Regions from separate parts of the Homo sapiens genome. Here region 2 is linked to region 1. The links come from fine-mapping of genetic effects on gene expression. Tissue or cell type: whole blood. Region 1 holds a variant in brackets; the other region holds the start of a gene. All regions are shown on one strand. Distances are between the middles of the regions.

What was found. PIP is the estimated chance that this variant, and not a neighbour inherited with it, causes the effect.
Region 2: it holds the start of BCLAF3, and the variant in region 1 is fine-mapped to the expression of BCLAF3 in whole blood (TOPMed, PIP 0.94).

Annotation. Positions count from the first base shown.
Region 1 is chrX:20,214,394-20,217,153 of GRCh38, forward strand. The region is part of intron 2 of RPS6KA3 (ribosomal protein S6 kinase A3); the gene reads right to left. Among named protein-coding and RNA genes, the nearest start is that of RPS6KA3, 51 kb to the right of the region's middle. The variant T/C (reference allele first, on the strand shown) is at 1,119.
Region 2 is chrX:19,989,598-19,992,097 of GRCh38, forward strand. It overlaps BCLAF3 (BCLAF1 and THRAP3 family member 3), which reads right to left and starts at 1,464. Exons shown (of 12, transcript NM_001367774.2): 1 at 1,311-1,464. LOC729609 (a long non-coding RNA gene) reads right to left here and starts at 182. Exons shown (of 2, transcript NR_024440.1): 1 at 89-182. RefSeq lists silencers at 847-1,216, 1,287-1,336, 1,377-1,806.

The DNA.
Region 1 (2,760 bases):
TAGTTTGGCTTAGTACCAAATTCCAGAAGAAAAATAATCTTGGCTCAGAACTTTGACACCATAGATCCATTGCCTTCTAGCATCCAGTTCTGCTGATGAGATGGGTGATGCTAGTCTAGTCACACTTTTTGGTAGGTCTGGTTTTTCCTTCTGGAAGCTTTAAAGATTTTCTCTGTCCTTGTGTTTCTGAAATTCCCCAATAGTGAGATAAATAGGGTCTTCTTTCCTTCAGAATGCCAGATGCTTGGTGAACCTTTATAATCTAAAGACCTGAATTCTTTAACTTTGTGGGGAATTCTAACATATCTTTGATAATTTCCTTCCACCCATTTTTCAGGGCTTCTCTTTTTGTGACTCTTCTACTAGTTGAATATTGTACGTCTGAAATGGAATCCTTTATGTCATTTTTTTCTCCTATTTTCTGTTTCCACTTTTTTTTCTTTTTTTCTTTTTTTTTTTTTTTGAGACAGGGTCTCACTCTGTCACCCACGCTGGAGTGCAATGGTGCGATCTCAGCTCACTGCAGCCTCAACCTCCTGGGCTCCAGTGATCCTCCCACCTCAGCCTCCCCAGTAGCTGGAACTACGGGCATGTGCCACAACACCTGGCTAATTTTTTGATTTGTTTGTAGAGACAGGGTCTCAACATGTTGCCCGCCTGCCTTGGCCTCCCAAAGTGCTGGGATTACGGGAATGAGCCATCATGTCCAGCACTGTCTCTACTTTCTAAGAGACTTTCTTGACTTTATCTTCCCACTTTCATACTAAATTTTTTATCCTGGCAAATCTTAAAGTACATTTTCAAGTGTTCCTTTTCTTAGTGTGTGTGTGTGTGTGTGTATGTGTGTTTTAAAAAGCATCTTCCTCCACTCCCTACTCTCTTCCCCCCAAAACAGATGCAATCATTTCAAACCTCTTTAGGGATACAAACAGGGATTTATAAAATATTTTTCTAAATCAGGACTCAGAGAGTACGGAAAATACTCTTGAGGGTAGAGAGAAAAGATCAATTCCTGTGGCAAGTTTGGCATTGGCTCAAGTTTCAAAAACCTGCCACTGTTTTATCCTGAACACGCTTTTCTGTTCCTTCTAAGTTTAAATTTCATAAGACTTAAATTT[T/C]TACTAATCACACCAGCAAACTATTTTCTATCTACTTTATATATATGGAAAATTACAGTAGTATAATAGGCAAAATATCCTGGGTTGAGATCTCAATGCCCAGATTGTACTTAATGTCACCAGGTCATGGGACCATGACTATTTTAGAAATGAATCTAAGGTTCAACCAGGACATAATACTAATGCTTGGGCAATCTTGGACAACAGGTAGGAAAGCAACAATGTACTTTTCTAGCTCATACTTGGAATCTAATGAGATGGATGCAGAAAGGAATATCAGATTTCCAAGGGCAGTGATAAGCCAAGAACAGACTGACATGTGCATGTGACAAACATATCTTATGTCACTAAATCACCTGTTACTGAAATAAATCTGTCACATGAAAACATAAAATTATAGTTTGACTTGACATTTTGTAAAACTGTATTTTTGCCTATAAGTACATGGTAAAGCAGCTATATTAATAGTTTTATGGAAAAATATTATGTTAATAAACTGGAACACAGATATAAATTATATACATTCTAATTATTCTGTGAGGCTCACATATTTTTACATTCTCTGGCACAACTGTTTTTTAAATGATAAATGGATATCTGTCCATTCATTACCACAAAAAACTTACTTTGTGCATTTAAAAACAGTAATAATAAATTCCATGCTATTATTTTTACAAAGACTGTTGATTTGATAAGCAAAAGTCTGACTGTGGGCAAAATTTTCAGGATGGCAGCAGATCTACATCACGTCTTCTTTCATTCTTCCTACATTTCCACCCCTTTCAGACATTTGCCACCTCCCTCAGCCTAGGTGTTCAATACCCTTAAGCTATGTACGGGAATTCACTAATTCATTCATCCATCCATTTAAACATTTATTTTTGAGTACCTGATACATGCTAGGTACTCTTCTAGGCGCTGGGATATACAATAAGTCAAATGGACCAAAAACTTTGCCGTTTTGACAACAGACCAAATAATAATAATAGGTAAATAAAGGTTAGAACATGATAAATACTATGAAGAAAAGATATTGAGTTGAGTAAAGAGATGAGAATAGCAGATATGGAAAGGGGGGGGTTGTAATTTTCAATAAAGAAGTCAGGGCAGGCTTTATTAAGAAGATGCTATTTGAGAAAGACCTGAGGGAGGTGAGAAAGTCAAGCACCTGGGGGAAAAGCATTCCTGGGAGAGGGACAAGCCAGTACAAAGGCCACAGCAGGAGCACACCTGGACACTAGAGTTTAAATCAGAGAGTATGAAAGAGAGGTAGAGAAGAATGAGGTCAAGAGAGAACTAAAATTCAGGCGGCTCTCCTGCTTTTGCTTTTTCCTGAATGCCTGGTCCCAGTGAAAATGTTTCTGATCTATGACATACTCTGTTAGGACCATTCCTTTTTGTTGGAAGGCCATTCAAATTATGGGCCAGGTATTGTACTAGGTGTTAGAGATACTAAGACAATTTACCTGGATCTCAAAGATTTATTATTAGATAAATATCTGTTGAGATATGACCCCTGATGGATAAAACAAAGTCAGTTCAGTTGAAACATATACTTTTACAATTCTGTAAAGAGTGTCATTTTGGACATCATGGAAAAATGAAGAGAAAATTTATGGGCAGGTGGATCTTTTGGTGTCCC
Region 2 (2,500 bases), 220 kb before region 1:
TGGCATGCTATCTAGTCAGAAAAAGATAATTACAAAAGAGAATTCACTTTAGAAAAACTCATGTATTAAGCTCTGCATAGAAAAAGACTGGAGGTGTATAACCACATTCACAATGGTTACTTGGAATGGGGAAACCATATTCACCATGGTTACTTGGAACTTGGAATAGTGAAACAACGTATCTTCATTGTGATTTCTATCTTAGAAATGTGTATAAATGGCTAAATGTTCCTATATATAAAAATGTTTCTAATAAGACGTTTTAAAGGTTTCTTGGGGGTGACTGAAACAGCTGTGATTTCAAAATAAAATTTTAGTAGCCATTTAAAAAAAACATTAAAAATAAAACATTGCTATACCATTACCATTAAAATACCAATGAAAAATAAAGTCCTCGTTATGAATCTGCAGCAAAACCTTTCTTTTCAAATTCTGCTCTGTCGTTTGGACCTGTTCACATTCAGAAAAATGCTAAAAAGGCTGCCTGGCGAGGAGCCTAAAGAGGCCTTCCTGATTTCTACCTGCAGTTTGTAATTTGTTCCAGGAAAAAAAAAAAAAAAAAAAAAGGCAATCACCTAATAGGTAGTTCGAAAAGCACCTGAGTAGGAAAATATTTACGGGGTAGGTTTCTCTCCCATTTCTTTCCCTCGAGACCTACCAACAGGACAGTCCTGACAGCGACTGGCCCAGTTTCCCAATACAACCCAGAGAAGCACAGGAGATGCGCCAATTTTCAGGAGACGCTTCTAAAAAGACAAGTTTTACTTTACAATGCAGGATAATGAGCAGCCTTCACTACTCATTCTCGACGTTAACAGAGGAAGATGCCGCTGCGCGGCAGGAGCGCCTCACCAGGACAAAGCGGGGTACGGGGGGGTCCTCGGTTCAGGCCCCGCAGGCGACGCGTCCAGGGCCGCCTCGAGGACAAGGGCACCGTCCCCGGACACCGCCTTCCCGGCCCCCGCCCTCTTAACAGATGCAGGGAACCGCGGGGACCGCAACCTGCCCGACGACGGCGGAGGATCAGGGTCGCGGCAGCAGGTGCCCGGGTCGCCGTGCCTGTCGAGGGACCTCAGGGGCGCCGGGCAGCTGTCCCCTGGAAACCCGCGCCGGGTCGCCGCGCCCAAGGGAAGGCGCTGACCGAGGGACCTACGGGGCGCAGAGGAGCTGTCCCAACAGAACCCGAGTCGGACCGCCGCATCCTCCCCGCTGCCCCATCCGCCACCCCGAGAACCGCCCCTCCTGGGTGGCGGACACGCCCTCCCTGCGGGCCCAGGCCTCCTCGCCCCGCCTCCCCCCGAGCCGCTCACCCGGCCGGGAAGCCCCCGCCGCCGCCGCCGCCGCCGCCGCCGCCGCCGCCGCCGCCGCCGCCGCCGGCCCCTCGGGCCTCGCCCCTCACTCTGCCGCCGCCTCCCACAGCAGCGACACCCCAGCCACCTCTGCCGGGCCGCGGGACCCGGAACCACTTCCTTCCGGAACCGCCTCGCCCCGCCCCCACCCCGGCCCCGCCCACTGCTCGCGGCCTCGCACTGGGCCCGTTCTCCAGCCGACCCCTATCCTCTACTCTCCCGGCGAGGGTGCCCCGCCCGGGCTTCTCGGACCAGAGCGCTGCGCCCCCTGCCGGCCGTTCCCACTGCGGCCGCTCTGTCCAGGGCGCCTGCGCCCTCTGCCACCCGCCCGCCGGGTCCGGCTAGAGCGCCTGCGCCCTCTGCCGCCCTCTCGCCGGAAAGGAGGGGACCTAATGGGCGTTCCAGGTCCAGGGATCCTGGGGGTTAAGGCCCAGGGATTGGAGGTCACCCCTCAGTCATGGGCAGAACTTGATCCCGTGGGCCTTCCAGCTTTGTGCAGATCTCTAACCATTCACCTACCCTCTATCCATTTCCCACTCCTCAAATTAAGCATATTCCCGGAAAACAAAGCCTCCCCTCTGGACTTCCCAAATGGTCGGATGGTACCAACATCTATCCGTCATCCAATTCAAAAGATTGCCTCATCTCTGTCTACTCGCTTGGTTTCTCCCCTCCCACACTCCATGCACCAGCCTCAAAGGTAGTGTGTCTTCTTCACTCTTGAAGCTTTCCGCTTGACACTGATATTCTTTCTTCCCCTTGTGAAATAGCTCTTTCAGGCTCTGTGCCATCTGGTAGTAACACCTTTTGCCCTCCCTTGTCACTGTCACCTACTGACTGTCTGGCATTAGTTTTCCTCTCCATCTGATTTACTGCCATCCTCCCAATGAATCCAACATCCACAACCCAGCCTGGTTTCCTTCAGTTCCTCAATCCGAATGACCTTTACTTCTACTTTGTTCACCCGTAGTCTAGAAAATCTAGATATTCATCACTTGATACTGCTCCATCTCTAAAACCTTAAATGTTGAAATCCCACTACCCAACTTAAACCCATAGCCTTTGACTACAACCACTTTTTTATTTTTACTTATTTATTTATTTTGAGACAGAATCTCTGTCACCCATGCTGGAGTGCAGTGGTGTGATCT